Linked DNA regions of Homo sapiens. The protein of the gene in region 1 interacts with the protein of each later gene in a biochemical or structural test. Each region holds a gene or a part of one and is shown in the gene's direction. Other genes may lie near its edges.

What was found.
Region 2: the proteins of GRID2IP (region 1) and ASNSD1 interact in a test that uses a peptide from one of them, tested with the Homo sapiens proteins (one large-scale study listed by IntAct).
Region 3: the proteins of GRID2IP (region 1) and RSBN1 interact in a test that uses a peptide from one of them, tested with the Homo sapiens proteins (one large-scale study listed by IntAct).
Region 4: the proteins of GRID2IP (region 1) and PDLIM2 interact in a test that uses a peptide from one of them, tested with the Homo sapiens proteins (one large-scale study listed by IntAct).
Region 5: the proteins of GRID2IP (region 1) and JAM2 interact in a test that uses a peptide from one of them, tested with the Homo sapiens proteins (one large-scale study listed by IntAct).
Region 6: the proteins of GRID2IP (region 1) and TMEM178A interact in a test that uses a peptide from one of them, tested with the Homo sapiens proteins (one large-scale study listed by IntAct).
Region 7: the proteins of GRID2IP (region 1) and SCN8A interact in a test that uses a peptide from one of them, tested with the Homo sapiens proteins (one large-scale study listed by IntAct).

What each region holds. Positions count from the first base shown.
Region 1 is NC_000007.14:6,496,278-6,499,461, reverse strand, and holds the end of GRID2IP (delphilin), read left to right. Parts: intron 1-1,233; coding exon 1,234-1,398; intron 1,399-1,616; coding exon 1,617-1,688; 3' UTR 1,689-2,684; downstream 2,685-3,184.
Region 2 is NC_000002.12:189,667,895-189,671,331, forward strand, and holds the end of ASNSD1 (asparagine synthetase domain-containing protein 1), read left to right. Parts: coding exon 1-51; intron 52-2,546; coding exon 2,547-2,832; 3' UTR 2,833-2,937; downstream 2,938-3,437.
Region 3 is NC_000001.11:113,774,477-113,777,976, reverse strand, and holds part of RSBN1 (lysine-specific demethylase 9), read left to right. Parts: exon of another isoform or gene 1-157; intron 158-168; coding exon 169-306; intron 307-624; coding exon 625-767; intron 768-3,500. UniProt on the Homo sapiens protein: Histone demethylase that specifically demethylates dimethylated 'Lys-20' of histone H4 (H4K20me2), thereby modulating chromosome architecture.
Region 4 is NC_000008.11:22,579,223-22,583,274, forward strand, and holds the start of PDLIM2 (PDZ and LIM domain protein 2), read left to right. Parts: upstream 1-1,252; 5' UTR 1,253-1,380; coding exon of another isoform or gene 1,381-1,382; coding exon 1,383-1,475; intron 1,476-2,156; coding exon 2,157-2,308; intron 2,309-4,052. UniProt on the Homo sapiens protein: Probable adapter protein located at the actin cytoskeleton that promotes cell attachment. Necessary for the migratory capacity of epithelial cells. Overexpression enhances cell adhesion to collagen and fibronectin and suppresses anchorage independent growth.
Region 5 is NC_000021.9:25,642,258-25,645,757, forward strand, and holds part of JAM2 (junctional adhesion molecule B isoform 1 precursor), read left to right. Parts: intron 1-590; exon of another isoform or gene 591-3,500. UniProt on the Homo sapiens protein: Junctional adhesion protein that mediates heterotypic cell-cell interactions with its cognate receptor JAM3 to regulate different cellular processes. Plays a role in homing and mobilization of hematopoietic stem and progenitor cells within the bone marrow.
Region 6 is NC_000002.12:39,707,417-39,710,916, forward strand, and holds part of TMEM178A (transmembrane protein 178A isoform 1 precursor), read left to right. Parts: intron 1-3,500. UniProt on the Homo sapiens protein: Acts as a negative regulator of osteoclast differentiation in basal and inflammatory conditions by regulating TNFSF11-induced Ca (2+) fluxes, thereby controlling the induction of NFATC1.
Region 7 is NC_000012.12:51,765,733-51,769,232, forward strand, and holds part of SCN8A (sodium channel protein type 8 subunit alpha), read left to right. Parts: coding exon 1-295; intron 296-3,132; coding exon 3,133-3,500. UniProt on the Homo sapiens protein: Pore-forming subunit of a voltage-gated sodium channel complex assuming opened or closed conformations in response to the voltage difference across membranes and through which sodium ions selectively pass along their electrochemical gradient.

The sequences.
Region 1 (3,184 bases):
GAGACTCTGTCTCAAAATTAATTAATTAATTAATTAAAGGCAGCCTCTGCAAAGGAAATTGACCTGGCACATCAGACAGGCATAGGCCCAAATCCTGGCTCATTTCCTTACCTGCTGTGGGACTATGGGCAAGTCAGTTACCCTCTGTGAGCCCAGTTTTCTCATCAGGAAAAAGAGGGGTCATGAGAACCTCTACCACAGTGGTCATTAATTGATGTGACCCTGGTGGGTTCAACCGTGGCTCAGGCACCACAGTGCTTGCTGTGTGATCTTGGGCTAGTTGCTAAAGTCCTGTGTGCTTTAATTTGTTCACATGTAAAATAGAGATAATCTACCTCATAGAGGTGTTAAACGATGATTCAACAAGCTTGGAACAAAGCTCGGCACCATTTTAAGTGCTGAAAAAATGATAGCGATTCAGCCACTGAATCTTTTTGCAAGACTGACCATGTATCAGATGCTATTCTAAGCCCTGGAGGTGCAAGGAGGGAGCGAGCTTTCACTTAGGCAGTAGGAAATGAACTTATGAACAATTTCAGATCATGACAAATGCTCTAGAAAACAGAGTAAGGCCTAAGGCCAGGTGCAGTGGCTCACACCTGTAATCCCAGCACTTTGGGAGGCCAAAGTGGGAGGATCACTTGAGCCCAGGAGTTTGAGACCACCCTAGGCAACATACACCCCATCTCTATTTTAAAAATCAAAAAATTAGCTGGGTATGGTGGTGTAAACCTCTGGTCCCAGCTGCTCGGGAGGCTGAGGTGGGAGGATCACTTGAGCCTGGGAGGTAGAGGCTGGAATGATCTGTGAGCTGTGATCACACCACTGCACTCCAGGCTGAGCGACAGAATAAGACCCTGTCTCAAAAAAAAAAAAAAAAAAAAAAAAAGTAAGGCCTAGAGAGTGACAGAGGGGCCTACTGTAAATGAGTGGTTGGGGAAGAAGGTGGCAGTGGAAGCCTCTGATCAGAGACCCAGGGCCTGGCCCTGCAGAGAGAACAGGGGTGAATGGCCTGAGGCTGCACTGGCTGTGGCCAGTTCCAGGATGAGTTCAGTGGCCAGTGGGACTAGAGTCCCTGAACAGGGCCTGGTTCCCTGTTGGACACAGGGCCTGGCCCTTGGAAGGACTCAGGCCAACCGGGAATAGGGCTGCTAGGGACCTGTCTGTCGGGCCACCACCTGAGACCCTGGGGGCACAAGCGGGCTGGCTGTTTCCTTAACTGAGGCCTGTCAGTCCTTCCTGGAGACGGCCCAGCCAGCACTTCGGGCGCTCGACGGGCTGCAGCGCGAGGCCATGGAGGAGCTGGGCAAGGCGCTGGCCTTCTTTGGGGAGGATTCCAAGGCCACCACCTCTGAGGCTTTCTTCGGCATCTTTGCAGAGTTCATGAGCAAATTCGAGGTGAGCCTCGCTGGAGCCCTGAGGGGCCCTTTTGGAGAGGTGGGGGCCAGAGGCCAAATGAAGGGATCCTCCATGAAGCCAGGGCTGGGAAAGGGGCTCCAGTGAGCGACATGTCCCCCTAACCCCCTGATGGGCTGTCTAGTGTGGGAAGAGACAGGGAAGGCGTCACAGGTTCCTGGGACCACTGACCACCCTACCTCTGTGTTCCCCCTCCCCAGCGAGCGCTGAGTGACCTGCAGGCCGGGGAGGGCCTGCGCAGCTCCGGGATGGTTTCACCCCTGGCCTGGTGACAGTGGCCACACCGCGTCCTCTGCGGCCTGAGCAGGGAGATGGAGGCCGAGAGGGCAGCCCAGACACTGCCGAGGTCCGGGGCCACTGTGCCCCGGGCTCTGAGCACACCGCCAGCCTCTCCTGCAGCTACCTCAGCCGCCGAGCTGTGGTCGGGCCCTCCTCTGCCAGCCCTTGTTCCTACCCCCAGGCCCAGAGCCAGATGCTGTAGGAGCAGGTGCTGAGTGTGCCTGCACATGGAGGACCGTGCTCTGTCGGCTTCTTGGGCCCACTTCCCACTTCGCTCCCAGGCTGTCAGGGGGGCCTGGAGGGTGGATTACAAAGTGGCCACATTCCTGGGACATGTGGACCTTTTTTCTGATCCTGCTCCTAGTGGGTCCCTGTGAGGGGGCCGACACCCTTGAGCACGACCCTGCAGGCAGGCGCGAGACGCGAGAGGGCAGAAAGCCGGATGTAGAGGGGCCCTGGGGATGTGCACGCCCAGCCTGGGCCTTGGAAGCTGGCTTCAGGGACACAGGAAGAGAGAAGCCTGGGAGAGACGCAGGGAAGGAAGGACTGGAGAAGGAAGACCCCCTATGTCAGACTGCGGAATTGAGGTTTCATGCAGTGGACAAACCCAAACCTGTGTAGAGGTGGCCCAATTGGAAGTGGGGAGCCTGGGAGTGGAATAGGTGTGGTCAAGGTAGAGCAGACAGAATGGGGAGGTGTTGAGGCAGGAGGTGAGCAGGATCTGGTGGCCAACTGCCAGACTTCTCACCTGGACGGATGGTGATGTTCCCTGGAGCAAGTCATGAGACCGGGGCAGGTGTGGGGGCAGATGACACAATCTGGGATGTGTTTGGGACCCAAATGGTCATTTTACATGTGCCTAGGCATATAGCAGGAGTTACCTGGATACCAGGAGCAGGAGCAGGTGGCGTGGTGGGCAGGGAGGGAGGGTGTGTGAACTGTTTCACCTTTTTTAAAATTCTCTGATTGACAGATCCTTGGATCAGACAGCTTCCCTCGTTGCACTTTTTTTTTTTTTTTTTTTTGGAAAAGTCTGAAATGGGCTTTAATCCTGTCTCATGGATTCTTTTTCTCCCACTGCAATCAAATGGCTTACATTGCACCTGGGCAGTACTGGGAACCTGTTCAGTTCTTCCCAGTCTCCCCTAGGCCCCTCTTGGAAGCCACCTTTGTTTTTTTGTTCCTTGCACACAAGCACCATACAAAAACATCAAAACCAAAATATATACTGCAAGGGGGATGTGGCTAGTGGGGTACATTTCACCCTAGCAGCTCAAGCAGAATTGTTTCCAAAAGTTCCCAGTGCCTGTGTCTCTGGGAAACATGTCAGGAGGTCAGTTAAAACCTCTGCAGGCAGGGCGTGGGGGCTCACGCCTGTAATTCCAACACTTCGGGAGGCTGAGGCAGGTGGATCACCTGAGGCCAGAAGTTCAAGACCAGCCTGGCCAACATAGTGAAGCCATATCTCTACTAAAAATACACAAAATTA
Region 2 (3,437 bases), on another chromosome or scaffold:
AAATCTTGGTCGTGATGACAGAGTTATTGGTGATCATGGAAAAGAAGCAAGGTAATTCTAATCATTTGAGTGTTCTTACGGTATTTTTATAAAAACAGCAGAGTGTAAATGGAGACTTTAAAGTTTGTTTTCTCTTTGGAGACTGTTCACATGAATAAGAGCAGCAATAATAGCTTGGCTTTGTATTATAAACAAAGTCAGAAACAGAGCTGGGAAGAGCCAGGAGAGCATTTATTTTCTAGAACTCATTCTCTAAGAAATGTCTTTTCAGTAATTTTCAAAGGTAACATAATGACAGGATTGTTTTTAAGACTATAGTGAAAAATACTGTCAAAGTAGGCCAGGCATGGTGGCTCACACCTGTCTTCCTAGCACTTTGGGAGGCCAAGGCGGGTGGATCACCTGAGGACAGGAGTTCAAGACCAGCCTGGTAAACATGATGAAACCCCACTTCTACTAAAAATACAAAAAAATTAGCTGATCATGGTGCTGCATGCCTGTAGTTCCAGCTACTCGGGAGGCTGAGAATGGCTGAACCCAGGAGGTGGAGGTTGCAGTGAGCCCAGATCGCGCCACCGCACTCCAGCCTGGGAGACAGTGCGAGACTCTGTTTCCACAAAAAAACAGAGTAAAACTGAGATAGTGAAATACTAAGAGAAGGTATTTAGAGGGTTTTGTTCAGCTTTTAATGTTTGCTTTCCTCCCAGTAAGGGCATAAGCCCCACCTGCAAGCCTTCTCCAGTGTTATAGAAACTGGCTTTGTCTCTATAGACATTTCTGTATGTACAGATCCATGCTGATTTGAAGGTAGTCCTTACACTGGATATTCCTCTGCCACGTTTTTTGAACACAATTTAGTTACATATTGCAGATTACCTAAAACCTTCAAAGAAACCAAGGCACTTTCATGTATGTATTCTTGCTTTTCAGGTTTATTTTTACCTATATCATATTTCTGAAGGTAGTGAACAAGTACAGTATTTGAATAAAACTTTCTAAAACATTAAGTAAGGATAAAGGAAGATGTGACATTTAGTTATAAAGAGCAAAAATTCATTCAAGTAGGCTAATTGATTAAGTGGTAGTTTATTACAAGGGTGCAAGCATCCAAGAATAGGAAGTCCAAGTAAGCTTCATGAGAATTAAACATACTACACTTTCTCTCCCTCTCTCTCTCTCTCTCTTTGACTTCATTGTTTCTTGTCTCTACTTCAGTCTTTTCCTCTTTCCACTGACTTGTAGTTGCCTTTACACAGTTGTCTTTCTTAAGTTTCTGGTCCTAGCCCATGTAAAAGTTTAGCTACTATGTCATTATTCTGTCATAATTTTCAAGATTTCACTATAAACTGATAACTAATGCCATAATAAAGTCCGTAAACTGTTAAACTGTTTTCTCTTTGAAGGACATGAGAGAGGTAGAAATTCAGTCTGTTATTTCAGCTAGGTCATAGAGAAAGGAATTTGTCTAGTAAAAGCCCTTACTTATGAAAGTATTATATTATGCTCAAATAAAAATGCATATGAAGAATGTTTAAAGCAGCTAATACAGAATTGTGATATAACAAATATAGTGGCTAGATCTAAATAATTTATTACGTATCTTGACATACATATTAACAGTAGTGTGTTGATTTGATTCTCTAGTTAAATTTGCTTTTGCAACTCATTCATTTTTATGTAATATTCCAGATAACAAATGTCTTTGTCCTTTCCAATCTCTTAACCTAGAATAGGATGTAATAAAACGGAAACACTAGTGTAACTGTATTGCATTTTGAGATGTGGGATGGTGGGTGTTAAAGTATTTTAAACAGAAAAAGAACATAATTTTCTAGAAATTGGGGAAGGAAAAGGGCAGAAAGTTTTTTTTTAATCGAATATTTTGTTTCTAGGTCATCCCAGAATTTAGGGGAAAAAAATCTAATATTTTGTTCTGTTACAGTAATTTATCACCATTTAATTGGTTTAAGTATAATTAAACAATTTTGAGTAACAAAATTTTACCATAAGTGTTTTGCAGGTTCAGGACTGTGGAGCCCTTCTATATTGGTTCCATATCCCTAAAGTGTCATTTCTTTAGACCTGATAAAGATCAGACACAGATTGAATAGTTAGTTAAGATCATGCTCGTAGGCTAGGTGCGGTGGCTCACTCCTGTATTCCCAGCACTTTGGGAGGCCAAAGCAGGTGGGTCACTTGAGTTCAGGAGTCCGAGACCAGCCTGGGCAATGTGGCGAAATCTCATCTCTACCAACAAATACAAAGATTAGCTGGGTGCGGTAGTGCTCACCTAGGCAAAAAAAAAAAAAAAAAATCATGTTTGTTTTCAAGGCCTCCACAAAGATACCTTGTAAAACAATTTGAAATTATTTCTGGACACAATAAACCTAATTTATTTATTGAGATTTAGACTATTTTGTAGTATATGTATTAAAATTAGTCATGTTGTGAAACAATTTGGTTAAATTTTAGCTATAAAACTGTGTATAAATCAAAGCAGGTTGATTTTATTTTTACATAGTGGTTATATTATCTGTCTATTTTAGATTTCCTTTCCTGGATGAAAATGTTGTCTCCTTTCTAAATTCTCTGCCGATTTGGGAAAAAGCAAACTTGACTTTACCCCGAGGAATTGGTGAAAAATTACTTTTACGCCTTGCAGCTGTGGAACTTGGTCTTACAGCCTCTGCTCTTCTGCCCAAACGGGCCATGCAGTTTGGATCAAGAATTGCAAAAATGGAAAAAATTAATGAAAAGGCATCTGATAAATGTGGACGGCTCCAAATCATGTCCTTAGAAAATCTTTCTATTGAAAAGGAGACTAAATTGTAATGTGATTCACAATGTAACAATATAAAAATAAGTTTTTATATAATTATATAAAAGTAAGATACTCTGCTGCTTTACTATTGTATAACATAGTAGTTTTAAAGTTCATTTGGTTGAATTTTCATTTTTTCCTGTCACAGAGCTTCTAAAACCATGGAATTTCCTTAGTGATAGGGAATATCTTTTGTTGTTCATAATAAGCCCCTTTTGATCACACCTGAGTTTATGCTAATGCGTTGACTTAGGGTGAGGTCTCTAAATAGCCTTTAACACCTGCAGCTTGGGAGGCCAAGGCAGAGGGATCTCTTGAGTCCAGGAGTTTGAGAACAGCCTGGGCAACATGATGAAACCTCATCTCTACCAAAAAAAAAAAAAAAGTACAGAAAATTAGCTGGGCATGGAAGCATGTGCCTCCCTACTCAAGAGTCTGAGGTGGGAGGATCACTTGAGCCCAGGAAGTTGAAGCTGCAGTGAGGCTAGGATCATACCACTGCACTCCAGCCTGGGCGACAGTGAGACCCTGTCTCTAAAAATAAAAATAAAAACAAAAATAAAAATCAAGTGATTAGAAGAGTTGGAATTTCATCCCCACCCACCAACCTCTGGGA
Region 3 (3,500 bases), on another chromosome or scaffold:
TATTTGTCAGTGTGCTTGGGTGCCTCTCTGACTTTATTCAAGGTATTGACCATTCAGTTCTTAGTTTGTAGAAGAAATGGCAACGTTGGAAACAATAACCTATTTTAATTCTTTAATTATATTATAGTTGTACCTCAGTCCATTTTTCCCTCTTTTGTTTTATCTTAGGTCAACAGGACATACTGCTGTGGCACCTACCGAGCAGGTCCTATGCGGCAGATAAGTCTCGTTGGAGCAGTAGATGAAGAAGTTGGTGATTATTTCCCAGAGTTCCTTGATATGTTAGAAGAATCACCATTTCTGAAAGTGAGTGTTAATTAAGATTATTAAAGTTTTGATCTTTACTTAAGTGGGCACTTTATATGTTGAAGAGTATTTAGCTAATATTGCCTATTGAAATTAAATTTATCCAGTGTTTTGCACAGAAATGTTTAGATAGAATAATATTAGTACAAAGTACTTAAATTCAATTATTCTTTTTAATATAAATTACTATGTAAATAGCATTTATTTCTTTATATACAGTTGTAAAAAAGCCTTCTTAGAACTTTTATTTGGGTGGGAGGATTAACTTATAAATCATTGAAACAATTTTTTAATGTGACTAATCCGTCTGATTTCTAGATGACTTTGCCCTGGGGTACACTTTCTAGCCTCCGACTCCAGTGTAGGTCCCAGAGTGATGATGGGCCTATAATGTGGGTAAGGCCAGGAGAACAGATGATCCCTACAGCAGATATGCCAAAGTCACCCTTCAAAAGACGACGGTAAATATTTCTTTTTCTCAAATAAGCAAAACTACTTTTTTTTAGTTGGTTGCTTATAAAAATGAGCACAGTTTGAAAACCATTTGTCTTGGGCTCCCTTAAGTAAATGTTTTAGTTGTCGGTTCCTCTTTTCAGTCCAATCATCACAGTTATCACAGTGAGGCATTTTTCTAAAACACAAATTTAATTTTTACTTATTTTTTAAAAACCTGTGCCCTAACTGCCTGCAGGATAAAAGATCAAACCCCTTAGTGTGGTTTACATTAATAATCAGGTCAACTGTACCTCTTCTAGATGTATCTGTGTTTAGTCTTCTCCGGCCATACCGAATTCACTTTCCAAACCATAGTCTATCATAACTCTTTGCTTTTGCACTATTTTTTTTTTTTTTTTTTTTTTGAGATAGGGTCTCACTCTGTTGCCCAGAGCTAGAGTGCAGTGGTACAATCATAGCTCACTGTATTCTTGAACTTCTGGTCTCAGGAGAGCCTCCCAAGTAACTGTGGCTATAGGTGTGTACCACCATGCCCATCTGATTAAAAAAATTGTTTTGTGTATTTTATTTTTGTAGAGATGGGGTCTCACCATATTGCCCAGGTTGGCTTTGAACTCCTGGCCTCAAATGATCCTCCTGCCTCAGCCTCCCAAAGTGCTGGGGTTACCGTCCCACAGCAAACTTAATACATTTTCAAAACTTAGCTTGAGCTGGGCACAGTGGCATATGCCTTTAGTCCTAGCTACCTGGTAGGCTGAAGTAGGAGGATCAGTTGAGCCCAGGACTCCACGACAAGATCCTGACTCAAACCCAAACCAAAACCAAACAAAACTTAACTTGGACGTCACCTCCTTTGTGAAGTTTTTCTTTCCTTCCTTAGGTAATTAATTGTTCCCTACAATGTTCTGTTCATTAAAGTTTTGTTTACATGTTTTTATTTTCTACTAACATTTGAGGTGTGCTTTGGGAAGACAGGGACTATTTTATTCATCTTTGTCCTCATGACATATACTAGGTAACCAGTATTTGCTACATGAAACCAATAATGTTCTATAGGACCGAGCCTCAGTAATTCATATTGTGCTAACATGTTTTGTGTTTCAGACTTTGAAGACAAATGTAGATTAACTCACTCTCTAGTACTTTGAAAAATCTAATTTAATGAGACTGAAAATGATCTATACCTGCTTAGACTACGAAAATAGCAATTCAAAATAAGTGCCCAGAAGTGAGTTTTAATGGACTAATCTAAACCTTAACTTAAGGCTCATAGGAGAATGATACTTGAGCTAAGTATGGAATAATCTTAGGTACTTGAAATGTATGAAAATACTTTGAAAACATTATGTACGATGCAGGGTGGTGGCATGGTAAAAACCCAGGAGTCATTTGAAAGTTCTGCACATTGCTAGATTATAGCAGTTTTTGTTGCAGGATGATGACGAATCTTGAAATCTTATTAAATTGTTAAATACTATATACATTTTTTGTTCTGTAATCTTTCCTCAAAAAATGACCATCATTTGTTTCCTGATTTTTATAAACTTAAGAAAAAAGTAATAGGAAAGAGTAAAAAGAGGGCAGGTGCAGTGGCTCACACCTGTAATCCCAGAACTTTGGGAGGCTGAGGCAGGCAGATTGCTTGAGTCCAGGAGTTCAAGACCAGCCTGGGCAACATGACAAAACCCTGTCTCTAGTAAAAATACAAAAATTAGTGTGGTGGCACGCTCCTGTAATCCTAGTTACTGAGGTGGTTGAGGCATGAGAATCGCTTGAACTCAGGAGGCCGAGGTCGCAGTGAGCTGAGATGGTGCTTCTGCACTCCAGCCTGGACGACAGAGTAAGACTCATCTCAAAAAGAAAAAAAAAAAGAAGAGTAGAAAGAAGGCAGGCTGGGCATGGTGGCTCACACCTGTAATCCCAGCACTTTGGGAGGCCAAGGCAGGCGGATCACCTGAGGTCAGGAGTTCGAGACCATCCTGGTCAACATGGTGAAACCCCATCTCTACTAAAAATACAAAAATTAGCTGGGCATGGTGGCAGCCGCCTGTTATCCCAGCTACTCGGGAGGCTGAGGCAGGAGAATTGCTTGAACCTGGGAGGCGAAGGTTGCAGTGAGCCGAGATTGTGCCACTCCACTCAAGCCTGGGGGACAAGAGCAAGACTTCATCTCCAAAAAAAAAAAAAAGGTAGCCACCATTTAGGCATATTAACCTTTCAAATTATATATAGCCATAAATAATCTTTTTACAAAATCCATTCTTTGTGTGATGTTTACTTTAAAACTTGGGAATTTTTACTGTATGGTTGTATCAAGATTTATTTAACCAATTCTTGGTTTTTGTTTTTGTTTTTTCTTTGAGACAGGGTCTTACTCTGTCACCTAGGCTGGAGTGCAGTGGCATGATCAGGGCTCACTGTAGCCCATCTCCCAGGCTCAAGTGATCCTCCCACCTCAGCCCCACCAAGTATCTGGGACTACAGGTGCCTGCCACCATGCCTGGCTAGTTGTTTTTTGTTGTTGTTGTTGTTGTTTTTGAGACAGAGTCTTGCTCTGTCACCCAGGCTGGAGTGCGGTGGTGCGATCTCGGCTCACTGCAAGCCCCTCCTCCCGGGTTCACACCATTCTCCTGCTTCAGCCTCCCAAGTAGCTGGGACTACAGCCTCCCGCTATGATGCCCGGCTAATTTTTTTTTTTATTTTTAGTAGAGATGGGGTTTCAACGTGTTAGCCAGGAT
Region 4 (4,052 bases), on another chromosome or scaffold:
AGGTGAGCGCGCCCACCTGCGCCTCTCCGCGCGGCCCGCCCTCCCCGGCGCCGGGCTCCTCTCCGCGCCCCTGTCGGCGCGGAACCCTGGCCTCGTCCGCGGCCCAGCTCCCTGGAGCCTCGCATCAGCGGGGGCGCCCCCGCGAGCTGCGCTCTCCCCGGCCGGAGCGCTCCTCCTCCAGCCCCCAGCCCGCAGGGTACTTTGCCCTCGGAGCGAAGGAGGCTCCAGAACTGGTAGAGCCGGGCCATCGGGCTGGGCACCTCCCCGCGGCGCCCGCAGCGCGGAGTCCACTGACCGGCTCAAAGGTCTGGGAATCTCGGGGCGGCCGCGAGCCGGCCTCGGGGACTGGGGTGGGGGCGGTGCTGGGAACAGAGGCTAGGCCTGGGCCCAAGGGGAAGGCAGCCGGGGATGGAGCGGACAGACCGCTGGTGCTCTTGATAGATTCTCGCAGCACTTGCGTCCCCAGGGCAGCCCCAGGATGGGTGCTGGGCAGGGTGGTGCCCAGCCTGGCACCGCGGCTTCCTGCCTGGATTGGCTCCTGGCTCCAGAGCTAGAGGCTCAGGAAATCCCACAGGGGTCTGTCTGCAAGGGCACTTCCTTGCCCAGCGGAGGGGCTGTGGATGGGAGGCCTGTCACCCCGGCTGTCTGTCGGGCAGCATCAGGAATCTGGGGGTGGGTGTGTCCAGCTTGACAGATGAACCCTGGCCTCCTTGCCCTGGCAGCCGGCCCCTGGGGGAGGTGGGGAGCCCGGTCTTGCCCGTGTGATCCACTTTGCCAAGAACGAGGTGGGCAGCTAGGAGGCCCATGTGAAGACTCGGCCTCACCCCACCAGTCCTTCACCTGGCCAGTGACTTACACAGTCTGTACTGGTGCCAGCCTGTTCCTTGACCCGTCACTCCTGCTTCCTGAGCCCTGCTCTCCCTAGGCCACTCACCAGCCCTCCCCCAGAGTGGAGAGGAAGTACCGTGTGCTGTGGGTTTTGGGGACAGGAAGCAAGCGCTAGTGGGACTGAGCCCTGATGGTGGAGGAGGGGAGACTGAGGGGGTGCTGGCATCCCCTCCACTTGCCAGCCCCTGCCCCCCATGCTCCAGCAAGCCCCCTGCCTGGCAGCCTGGGCAGCCCCCTCCTGGGAGTCGCTCCCTGGGCTGAAGACTAAGGAAGGGAGAACCCAGAAGCATGGCTTCCCAGGGTGGGGGGAAGTGAAACCGGGCTGAGGGAGGGAGTTAGCCACTTCCTCTACCCACCCCAAAGCCCCTGAGTAGCTGCTCCGGGAGCTGTGGTGCCCTCTCCTTCTCCCTTTGGCTCCTCTCCTGCTGCCTTACAGTGCCCCCAGAGCCGGCTAGGGGCATGGACTTCACCTCCTGGTCCTCTCTTCCTCAGGTATGGCGTTGACGGTGGATGTGGCCGGGCCAGCGCCCTGGGGCTTCCGTATCACAGGGGGCAGGGATTTCCACACGCCCATCATGGTGACTAAGGTAAGGATGGTGGCTCAAAGAGATGAGAAGGTCCTGCCAGAAGCGAGGTCGGCCCTGTTCACCCCACTCTGCACAGATGGCTTGCTTTTTCTGTTCTGGAGCTAGGGATCTGCTGCTGCCTGGCGTGCTGGCTGTAAGGGAGCCGTGGCCCTTTGCCACGGGGATGTGGTGGCCACTTCAGGAACAGACCTTGGGAGTGAAAGGGAGCTGGGACCAGGACAGGGCCGGCTCTTGCCTCCCCAGTTGCTATCCCCACACTTGCAGGCAGCCATTTGGGGTGATTACTAGAACAAGAGCCCCGGAGTTCTTGGCAGTCTCCTCTTGACCTGGGCCCAGGCTGGGAACATTCACAGGAGGGCTGTGCAGGCAGCCACCTGCAAGGTGCGATTTGCACGGGCAAGGCTCTCTATCCAAAAGTATTTCCAAGCACAGTTCCTGAAATTCTGCCACTGCACATTCTTTGGGAGGCCCATTAGAATGCCAGTGTGGGGTGGGGGCTGCCACCTGCGCTCCTGGAGGGGATGGCTGATCAGCTGGGTGTCATGAGCAGGCAGAGGGACATGCAGGAGGGTGCAGGCCGGCCTGGGTCAAGCCAGCCTCTGTGTTTCTTGGGTAGCAGAGTGGGAAGTCCCTTCTCCAGCTGGGCCACGGTCTGAGCATGCCAGCTCCTCATCCCTACAGGTGGCCGAGCGGGGCAAAGCCAAGGACGCTGACCTCCGGCCTGGAGACATAATCGTGGCCATCAACGGGGAAAGCGCGGAGGGCATGCTGCATGCCGAGGCCCAGAGCAAGATCCGCCAGAGCCCCTCGCCCCTGCGGCTGCAGCTGGACCGGTAGGGCCTCCCGCTCTGCAGAGCCTGTGGCATTCCCCCTCCTCCACCACCCCACGTATTGAGCAGCCCTTGCTCCTGCCCATGGGCTAGAGCTCAGCCCTAAAGCGGCCTTCTTGGGCCCTCTCCACACCTTGGTGAGAAGGTCCTGGGCTCTGCTTCCTGCAGCAGGGTGGGCTGAGGGGTGTTCCCATGCCTGGTTGGGTAAAGGTGGGCGCCAGGCTGGGCGTGCAGTCACAGGCTGGGCAGGGCGAGCTGGCACCAGCCACCTTGAAGCCCGGGTTTGACTGGTTCCCAAGAGTGTGCAGGGCACAGGGCGTGGGCATGAAGTGGGTTGAAGAGGGGAACCTTCTGGGAAAGGTATGCCCGAGGCTGCATCCCCAGGACTCCTGCTTCCAACAGGGCATGGCCTTTGTTTAGTTCCCAGCTGGAAGTGAGGACTTGGGGGGCTCATTCCTCATAGAGGCTGTCTGTTCCTCCCCATCACTGAAGGCAGATGCCCGATCCTGGGTTACTCCTAGGGTTTTGAGCCTATAAGCCAAGGTGGGGCCAGGGTGGGGCCTGGAGGCCAAGCTATAGGGGGAACAGGTGGCTCCCTGGGGTGGGGCATTGCAGTGAGTCACAGATCGGGAATGCCAGGAGATCCCCGAGCCAGGAGAGCCCTCTGCACGGGCCTAGAACCTGAGTCAGACACCTCTTGCATCCTGGCCACCCCCACATTGTCCTGCTCTCTTCAGCCCTACCAAGCCCCTCCTTCTCCAACTGCCCTGCCCTGTGGTGTGGCAGAAGCCGGCTCCCTTCATGTCATTCAGGTCCCTGGGTGTTTGCAGGAGCGGGACCCCAAGAAGGAGGGTAGAGAGCACCTCATGGCATCTGGGAATGGGGCAGAAAGCTACAGGAGGCTGAGGGTCTGGCAGCGGAAGGGCAGGAGCCTCGGACTGTCTCTTCCTCTGGGGTTCTCTGGAGGGACCAGGGCTCGGGGGAGGTAGGCCTGGGCTGTAAGTCAGGCCTCTGGTTCTGCACCAGGCAAGCCCAGACTCCAGTCTCTTAATTTTTTTTTTTTTTTTTTTTTTGAGACAGAGTCTCGCTCTGTTGCCAGGCTGGAGTGCAGTAGCGTGATCTCGGCTCACTGCCACCTCTGCCTCCCGGGTTCAAGAGAGTCTCCTGACTCAGCCTCCTGAGTACCTGGGACTACAGGCGCGTGCCACCACGCCCAGCTAATTTTTGTATTTTTAGTAGAGATGGGGTTTCACCACGTTGGCCAGGATGGTCTCGATCTCCTGACCTCGTGATCCACTTGCCTCAGCCTCCCAAAGTGCTGGGATTACAGGTATTACACCGCGCCCGGCCCAGTCTCCTTACTTTTGCTGACGTGATGCCCACCCCCCCCCCCGCCCCCATCTCCCGCCTCCTACCCTCCCAGGTGACCTCTCTGGTATTCAGAAGCCCTGGGGCAGGAAGCAGGGCTCCAGGCTGGAGCCAGAGACTGAGCTCTCCTCACCCTGATCCCATGGCTCTCCCAGGAAGCGGAGGGTCCTGTTGCCCTACATCTCTAGAGGCAGCCTCACGGCCAGGAATGTGTGGCAAGATGGGACGAGGCAGGCTGTCCCTCAGCCCAGACTTCAGTTACCTCCCATTCAGGGCTCCAGCTGGGTTCCACTTTGGAAGAGGGTACCCAGGGAGCTGGGAGGGCGTGCCCCTCTCGCTGGTGGGGAGCTGGGCCTACTTGTCTGGAAGGAGGCAGGCG
Region 5 (3,500 bases), on another chromosome or scaffold:
TCATAAATTATTTGGAGCTCTTCTGCATGGGAGATGGGTCTCTCCCTTCCCTTCATTTATTTATTTAATCATTTATTTTTCTATCAGTATGGGCTCATAAATATTTGTTTTATACTTTGGGTTATAATCCAATACTATTTTATTTATTAAAGACTTAGTGGATTTCTTATGCTGTTATTACATATTCATCTTTTTAATATTCTTCCCAGATGTAACTGTGCCATTCTTTTGGCCACTCCTATCATTTATAATATCATGCTTACTCCCTTCTTTCCTTTTTATCCTGCTGTTTATCAGCATTCTTTATATCTTTCTTAGTAGTCTGGAGGATTGCTTTTTTGTTGTTGTTCTTGTTATTTAAACGATGATGTCAGTATCCCTGTTGATATATGGATATTTTTGTGTGTGTTTAGTTGAATTACATTTTTCTTTCCCACTCCATTAGGAAAGGAATTTCTTGATGTTTGCTCACCACTATATGTCCAGTGCTGAGCAAAGTTCCTGGTTAATAGTAGGTATAAATATATGCCTGTTGATTCTATGGTGCCTTAGTCCATTCAGGCTGCTGTAACAAAATACCATAAACGGAGTAGCTTATAAACAACGTTTATTTCTCACAGCTCTGGAGGCTGAGAAGTTCACAATCAAGATACCAGCAAATTCAGTGTCAGGCAAGGGCCCACTTCCTGGTTCATAGATGGAGCCTTCTCAGGGTGACCTCCCATGGCGGAAGAAGCAAGGCAGCTCTGAGGTCTCTTTGTAAGCGCACTGTTGTCATGACCAGATCACGGTCCAAAGCCTTCAACTCCTAATACCATCACATTGGTGATTAGATTTCAACATATGAATGTGGGGGGACATAAACCACAGCAGATGGAATGGGGATGAGGTAGGGTAGGTAAAAGAAGTGTATAGATTGAACTGATTGCAATATAAATCATGAAGCTCTAACTTCATGTTAAGTAGGTGGAGTGTTAGATTTCTCTGAGGCATCATTTAAGCTGATATGTCAAAAAATAATAGGAATGAGTATTCCGTGTTTGGTGGGGTGTTGTCATGCCTTTTGGGGTCTCTCAGAGCCAAGGAGCTGATCATGAATCAGTTCCTGATTCCACCTAACCAGTAGCAGCTGGTCCTCAGATCTGGACTGGAACCTGATCCAGGCGCTTAGCCTGAGTCTAATCTCTCATCAACTGATAAAGATTGTGGTAGGGGAGAGAGGTCTGAATCTTTTGTAAAATCACAAGGTTCTGCCTTTTTGCCAGAACTGACCCAAAACAGCACTCCAGGGAACCGGTACTAGGAAAATTCTGCCCTCTGTATCTATTGTTAAGAAGCAACTGCCATAATCAATTTGCTGGAGAGAAGTGGTTCCGTGCTGGCACAGTCTCAATTATCTGATGAACAGAAACGCTAAAATGGGCTTGTAGGTGGATTTAACAACCATTTCAAGACTATGAAAGAAATTATATTAGAAAGAATGAAGTCAAAAACAAAAACTTCAGCCTGAGCACAGTGAGTTCCCTATGACTGAAAACACTCATTTATCCTCCCACATGAGCAGTTTAATGAGAGGAGCCCACAGGAGCTTACGGATGTTCACCACCCATGGTTTCCATTGCATTGGTTTCCTCCTGTGGGCCTTCCTCATAGAGAAGATGTATTGGAATATAGAGGTAAGAGCTGCTAGCTTTATTGAAGTCAGACCACCAGGAAGCTATAAAGGCCATTCTTAAAATAATATTTTTTCATCCCATAGCAATATAGTAGTAACACTGCTGAGTCAATACTCCAGTATACCCCTCTTGCTAGACTGATGTTTTGAGGAAGATGGTGGTGAAGATGGAAAAGGGGAATCAGAACCTGGGTCAGGTGCCTCCTTTGGCAAAAGCAGCAAAATAAAACTTAAAACCAGGGATTGTTTTCTTGGACGGTGTTACTGTTAACAAGGCTAGAACTCAGAAAAAATAACCCAACTGTATTACTTTTCTATTTCTGTGAAACACATGACCAAAAACAAAACAATACAAATTGATTGTCTTAAACTTCTAGAGGTCAGAAGTCTGAAACAGGTCTCACTGGCCTAAAATCAAGGTATCAGCATGAAGCATTCCTTCTGGAGGTTCTAGGGCAGAATCTGTTTCCATGGCTTTTCCAGCTTCTGGAGGCGCCCCACTCACGGCCCTGTCCTGCCAGGCTGCCACCTGTCCCCACTCACGGCCCTGCGACACCAGGCTGCCACCTCTCTTGTTCTCTCTCTTCTGCTTCCTTCTTCCACTCATCAGGACCCTTGTCATTACCTTGGGCTTACCTGAGTAACTCTGGATAATTTATCCATTTCAAAGTCAGCTGGTTAGCAACTTTCATCCATCTACAACTGCAATTCCTATTTACCATGTAAAGTAAGATATTTATAGGTTCTGGGGAGTAGGATGTGGACATCTTTGTGGGGCTATTATTCTGTTTCTCACAGCAGCCAAAATGAGGTTATGCACAGCGACAGTGTTTTCAGTGCTGTAGCCAAGAATATTCTAGATTCCATGAAGCCACCATAACTTTTACCTTTAAAGTATAACTCATAGTGATATAAAGCTGGTTGGTTTTTTGGTTTTGTTTGTTTGTTTGTTTGTTTGTTTTATTTGAGATGGAATCTTGCTCTGTCACCCAAGCTGGAATGCAGTGGCGCAATCTCAGCTCACCACAACCTCCACCTCCTGGTTTCAAGCAATTCTCCTGCCTCAGCCTCCTGAGTAGCTGGGATTATAGGCTCCCACCACCACGCCCACCTAACTTTTGTATTTTTAGTAGAGACTGGGTTTCGTCATGTTGGCCAGGCTGGTCTTGATCTCCTGACCTCAGATGATCTGCCTGCCTTGGCTTCCCAAAGTGCTGGGATTACAGGCGTGAGCCACCGCGCCTGGCCTAAAGCTATATTTTTTATTAGTTGTATTTCAAATTGCATAGTATGGTGGTAAAGAACATGCACTCCAATGCAGCACTCTGTGCTCTTACCAGCTGTGTGATCTTATACAGGTTAACACCTGTATTATGTCAGTTTACTCATCAGTGTTGGTGATAATCCCAATAAGAGTGCTTACCTCATAGAGGTTTAGGGAGAATTACATGTATAACACACTTAGTAAACTGAAGAAGCCATTGAAGCCTTTTGACATTGAATATCAGTTTGATTTGCATTTTAAAGAGAATGCATTGGATGGAGTATGGTGAATGGAAGGATTGGGGTGGGGGGAGTCAAACTGGGGAGACCAGTTAGAAGTTATTGGAGTAGTCCAGGCAATTGCTTGTGTAAGTACTTATTTTATATAGTTTATTGATAAATATACTCACATAATTACACATACACATATAACCACTGACAATTGCTTTTTACAGTTGTCACCTAATGATGCGATGTGTTCTGAGAAATGTGTCGTTAGGTGATTTTGTTATTGTGTGATCATAGAGTGTACTTACAGAAACCTAGATGGTAGAGCCTGCTG
Region 6 (3,500 bases), on another chromosome or scaffold:
GTCTTGGGTTTAATCTCTATATGAGCCCAGTCTGTTTTTTTGCTGTACTTTCTTTTTTCTTTTTTGTTTTTTTGAGATGGAGTCTCACTCTGTCACCCAGGCTGGAGTGTAGTGGTGCGATCTTGCCCCACTGCAACCTCTGTCTCCTGGGTTCAAGTGATTCTCCTGCCTCAGCCTCCTGAGTAGCTGGGACTACAGGCATGTGCCACCACACCTGGCTAATTTTTGTATTTTTAGTAGGGTTTCACCATGTTGGCCAGGCTGGTCTCGAACTCCTGACCTCAGGTGATCTGCCTGCCTCAGCCTCCCAAAGTGCTGGGATTACAGGCAAGAGCCACCACACCCCACCTTCTGTTCCTTCTTTCATACTGTGCCCCAAACCCTGGCCTGGACTCTTGGCAAACATGGACCATTGCTTATGAGGTGCCCTCAAAGACAGAGGGGGATAGATCAGCACAACCCATGCCCCGCTGGATGTCAATTCAAAGCATGCTTTAGTGATGGTGTCATTTTTACATACACAACACTCATTCATTTTAGTCCACAGATATCTTTTGAGGACTTACTATGTACGAGGCACTGCTGTGAGTGCTAAAGACACACAATGAATAAGGCAGGCAAAATTCTTGTTCATTTTTATTGTGGAGAGACATAAACAATGATTTGTGGTAGTGATAAAAGCTGTGAAGAAAAGAAACAGGGTGAAACAGGGACTCAGGGAAGATCTTGCTGAGGTGGCGATTTCGCAGCTAATTCGTGAGAAGCAGCCGGTGGTAGGAAGAGCGTAGCAGACTGGGGAAACCGCCAGTGCCAAACCTGAGAGAAGCGGCCAGTGGGGCTGGAGGGAGTGAGGGACAGGATAGTATCACATGAGGTGGGGGAAGTGGGCAGTGGCCAAAGCGTCAGGGTTTTGTTGGTCATGGTGGAGAGCTTGGATTTGAAGCTAAGGGTGACAAACGCCACTAGAAGGTTTGAAGCAAAGGAGTGACTTGATTTTTTTTTTTTTTTTTTTTTTTTTTTGAGACGGAGTTTCGCTCTGTCGCCCAGGCTGGAGTGCAGTGGCGCGATCTCGACTCACTGCAAGCTCCGCCTCCCGGGTTCACGCCATTCTCCTGCCTCAGCCTCCCGTGTAGCTGGGACTACAGGCGCGCGCCACCATGCCCGGCTAATTTTTGTATTTTTAGTAGAGACGGGGTTTCACCGTGTTAGCCAGGATGGTCTCGATCTCCTGACCTCGTGATCCGCCCGCCTCGGCCTCCCAAAGTGCTGGGATTACAGGCGTGAGCCACCGCGCCCGGCCGATTTTTAAAGAAGGGATTGGAAAGATGGGGGTGTGGAGACAGGGCTAGGATTTTTTTGACTAACAGCTAAAGGGTAGTTTTGTCTAAAAATGTGCCAGGTGCTGAGTTGATGGCTAACACTGACCGAAGGTAGCTTCAGGGAAGAAATCTTTCCTTTCTTCTCCTCCTTCACAGAAAACTCGTGTATTAATGATTAGTGAATGCCACATTAACTGGGCATTAACAGTTTCACACAGTATACTCAGCAACAGAACTAATATTCCCCGAGATAGATAGCCATTTTAAATAGGCTTATTTCCACTTGCTTGGAATTCTGTTATTCAAGTGACTATGCCTAGATTTTCTTGCACTTCTCACTGTAATGGGTCACTTAATTAAGCCTGCGTTAACAGGAGGCAGCCACACCCCACCGGGGCTGACACTGTTTGCTGACTGTCTGTCTCTGAGCGTTGACGGGTAGGGGGTACTTTGCCCTCTGGCATGTTCAACCACCCTGCAGCCTTAAGGAACCCACATCACAGGCAGGGATCCTTCCTTCTAACTCCCACTCACCCCTATCCCACTCCACGAAATGGTGCTGCAATTGGCAGTGATCTGGAATGTGGGGCATCATCACCAGCATCCTGGAACATTCAGAAGTCACATGGATGCTGCCTAGTTCTCAGCAGAAAACCAATTTAGGTTTTCTAGATTTTGGTGAATACACAGTGGCCACCAGGACTGTAGCACAGGGAGGCTAAAATGTTAGTTTCTGAGGTTTTAGAGGAGGATTTGGACCCTCAAGACCAGCCACTGGGTTCCTGCCCAAGGGATGCATTTAAAATCCAAATTATAGACTAAAGCAGACGCGGGCAGCAAAGAACCAGAGAGGACTGCACTGCACAGAGGATTCCTTTACACCTCTGCTGGGGCTTAATGGTTATTTAAAAATCTCCCCCGTTTTCTTCTCTCCCTTTATTTAAGCCCCCATTTCTCTGACTCTTGTCTCCATAAATATCAAAGAGGTACAGATGTGTTGCCTCCCAACACATGGGAAAGGCCCCATAACACTCCCCTTGTCAGGAAAATGGGGGATGCTCTGGAGTGGACAAAAGCCTCAGTAGGAGGAGTTTTTAAAGGATACTTTAAATATATGTACTGCCTGAATAGTTTAGTATGCTCTTAGCAAATGAAACAATTGTTAGAACTAAAATAAATTACAAGACCATGAAAGCCTACTGAGTGCTCCTTGGGAGACTGAGGGGCCAGTCTGGTTTTAAATGAAAGGAAGTTGAAGGTTCAATGGCAGGTGGGCACAGAGGAGAGGCAGTAGTTTCCTGGGCCAGCTCCACCTCTCCCTGTTCTCAGCCCTTATTTTGGATCCATGTGTGGATTGTACCTCTGGACCAGAGGAGCTCAGAGGTCCTCAGGATCGAGCACGGGAAGCTCCTGTGTAATTGTTAGGCAACATCAAAATATGCAAAGCAATAGCCACAACAGAAACCACCACCACCACCAACAAAAACCCAAACAATAAACTTGAAGTTTGATGACCAGTTCTGAAGGACTAACAGATACAACCTAACATTGTTAACATTGTTCTGTTGTTTTGTTTTGGTTGCCCAAACAACGTTATTGAAATTAAGGGGGAATCCACTTACAGACCTCATCACCTGAAAACAAAACAACCTTTTTTCAATATTTCCTTTATTTTGGACCAAATCTTGCCATGTATTTGCTTCACTGTAAAAAAACAAGAAAGGAAAAGGAAGGAGAAGAAAGGGGAGGGGATGGAAGAGGGGAGAGGAGGAGCATGGAGTGGATATGCTATGCTGGATTCACCTGTTCTGTTGCTGTGGGATTTAGGGGCGTTTGTTTTGCTTTTGTTACTACAAATAATGCCTTGAAATTTCCTTTGCAAACACTGAGACAACCATGTCAATCTATTGCTTGAGATAAATTAGCTGTAGAACGTTCACATGCAGTAGGAGATGAGAGCAAAAAAAGGGTTAAAAGAATCGATTTTAATTAAGCAGAATGTCTTTAGCCACTCAAGTCAGCATCCTTCCCACAGATTTTTGATGCTAAACTTAGCCCCTTCTAATGCTCTGCCATCTTCATTCTGTGCCTGAACTTATTAGCTAAACCTTCAAATGAAGAACATCAACCATGTGACAGGTTGGCTGGTTAAAATGGAAACTCTGAAACGATATTTCTCCT
Region 7 (3,500 bases), on another chromosome or scaffold:
AAATTCAGTGGGTGCCCTGGGCAACCTGACACTGGTGCTGGCCATTATTGTCTTCATCTTTGCCGTGGTGGGGATGCAACTCTTTGGAAAAAGCTACAAAGAGTGTGTCTGCAAGATCAACCAGGACTGTGAACTCCCTCGCTGGCATATGCATGACTTTTTCCATTCCTTCCTCATTGTCTTTCGAGTGTTGTGCGGGGAGTGGATTGAGACCATGTGGGACTGCATGGAAGTGGCAGGCCAGGCCATGTGCCTCATTGTCTTTATGATGGTCATGGTGATTGGCAACTTGGTGGTTAGTACTAATTTGTAGATATTTTTGTTCTACACCCTGAATATTCTACCCCTGGCCCAGAAGCCCAAGTCCTTCTACTGCTTAGTCCTTCTACTACCCGTCATGTTTGTTGATTTTTATTCTTTCTTGGCCCAGAAACCCTAAGGTACAAATGAAGGAGAGGAGAGAGATACTTACAGAGTGCCTACTTAGTCATGACCCCCACAACTTGTCAACCCTTTTCCTAGAGTTAGGAAAGCAAACTCAGCAAAATTAAGTGACTTTCCCAAATAAATATAGGGCTTGTATTTGAACCTAGACTTTAAAGTCTGTGCCCGTTCGCCTACAGAAGCCTTCCTTTTTCTTAACGACAATTTCTCATCTGTGGTGCTATTGACATCTTGGGCTGGATAATTCTTTGTTGTGGGCTGTCGTGTGCATTGTAGGGTTTAGCAGCGTCCCTCCTGGCCTCTACCCACTAGATGCCAGTAGCATCCTGAGAGCTGTGACAACCAAAAATGTCTGCAGACATTGCCAGATGTCCCTGGGGGGCAAAATTGCCCTCCATTGAGAGCCACTGCTCTAAACCATCTTAGAGTTTTATTTAATTTATATAAATGACAAATCACTTTATTGCTTTACTTTGATCTGTCCACCTGCTCTCTTCTACCTCTGTCTTTAGAAGAGTCACCAACAGATCTTAACACCTTGCTTCTTAAAGTGTGATCTGAGGACTAGCAGCAACAAGATCACTGGAGAGTGTGTTAGAAATGCAGAATTCTAGGCCCCAAATCAGAACTACTGAATCAGAATCTGCATTTTTAACAAGATCCTTGTGTGACTCAAAAGTACACTAAAGTTTGAGAAAGGACTATCTTACAGATCAGGCCCCTAATCCCACCTGCAAGTGTAGGGCAAAGAGGACTGGAAGAAGACAAGCTTATCTGTCCCTTAACATGCTCATCCACATTAGTTCTCTTCCTTTTTCTGCCACAGAGAAGCATGACAGTAAAAGGCTCCTACTCACCAGCCTCTGAACCAGCTACAACTATTCTGTTCTTCCATTTGACCTACAAAAAAAATAGCTACTGTAATGTTTAATTCTTCCTATTCTCCATTCCCAGCCACCTTTCCCTCAGTCCTAATCCCTCTAGTCTTCTCACTACTTCAGTGACTATAACAATGGCTTCCCGGTATGTAGCATGATCAACATTTTCAAGCCCTGACTTTGCCACCCTTTCTTCACTCTCCTGTTCTTATTTGTCTCAAAGACATCTCCCCATGGCTGTCTCCAGATACCTGAGCACTTGATAAATATCAGCTGTTACCACTACCCCCTGATGACACTTTTCAGGTTCCCCTTTGCTCAGTAGTCCTTCTGCCCATCTAGTTTCTAGGAACCTATAACTTTGGAGTATTTTCTGTCTCTTTTCTCTCCACTCCCAGCAAATATCTGATGTGTCTTAAATGCATCTTTCTTCATAGTATTTCTGTGGATATCTTTCTTCATAGTATCTAAGATCTGCCCCTTCCTTTGCATTTCTATAATTCATTCAGTACTTTATAAAAATGTGGTCTCAAGACCACCTGCATCATAATTACACAAGTTTCACTCACAAAAAAAGGCCAAGTCCCAGGCTGTATACCAAATCTACTGAATCCAAATATCTTTAGAGTAGGCTAAGGAAATATTTTTAACAAACATCCACACCCCTCACTCCCTGAGATTCTAATGCATGCTAAGATTTGGGATTTCTGTAGCCTAATCCAGACCCTTATCAATTCATGCATGTAACAGCCTCCTAACTTCTGCCCTTCCCCTCTGTATGTAGTTAGTCTGAATGACTCTTTCAAATCTCTGTCATCATCTGTGACTCCTTTACTCAAGAACCAGTAGTGGATCTAATTAAATAAAATTCAGATCCCTCAGCCTGGCCTTCAAAGCCCTCTCCAACTCACCCGCATTTTACCAACCATATTCCTTTTTAACTCTACAAATGGTGCAGATAATCCGAACACTTATAGTTCATTTATTGTTTCCACCCTCCCACTCTGCACATGACTGTTATCTCCTCCTAAAATGTATGCCTTACTCTTCTTCCCAAGTATGACAAAGTAAGGACCAAGTGTAAATCAAGAAGTGAGCACCTCTCCCACTCCTAAAAAGTAAGTCTTAATAAAAATAAATTAATTAACCTTAATGTTCAATGTAGTAAAATAGGAGATTAAAACAAAAATAAATAAAGCTTGTATCTGATGGCTTGACATTTGGCTATGCAAAAAAATATAAAAGTCACCATCACTGTCTTGCTAAAGCGATTTTATTTTTATAAATGTTAGGAAAACAAAATTTGTTCTTAAAATATGATGACATGAAGTGTATTTCAGTTCTACCTTCTTGGTTTTTTGTATGAAAGGATGGCACTTCAAGCCTCATTTTTTTTTCTGACGTGGGTCCTCTCAAACTCTGCTCATGAATATGTGGCATCTGTACACTTTGTGACCCTCCCCAGTAATGTATATTCACCTTTTTATTTTGGGGAAATGTCCTTCCAAAATGGATACAGCCTTTGTTTTTTCTGATTATAAGAGAAGTAATATATTTTCGGGTACATATATATGTATGTAAAACTATAAAAGACCCAAGAAAAGAGGTGCTAAACTCCTTGTATTACAACCAAAACCAAACACATTCCCACCTGGTAACATGAGCATTAAAATACTACGTGGGCCAAACACAACACAACAGAGCCTCTTTGAGTCTGTCACGTGAAGTCCATTGGCTTCCAGTTTGCAACCCTGAGTTCGATGGATAACTTTTCTGCATTTGTTCCTTTTTTCCAATGCTACTGGCATAGGTGCTGAACCTGTTTCTGGCCTTGCTCCTGAGCTCCTTCAGTGCAGACAACCTGGCTGCCACAGATGACGATGGGGAAATGAACAACCTCCAGATCTCAGTGATCCGTATCAAGAAGGGTGTGGCCTGGACCAAACTAAAGGTGCACGCCTTCATGCAGGCCCACTTTAAGCAGCGTGAGGCTGATGAGGTGAAGCCTCTGGATGAGTTGTATGAAAAGAAGGCCAACTGTATCGCCAATCACACCGGTGCAGACATCCACCGGAATGGTGACTTCCAGAAGAATGGCAATGGCACAACCAGCGGCATTGGCAGCAGCGTGGAGAAGTACATCATTGATGAGGACCACATGTCCTTCATCAACAACCC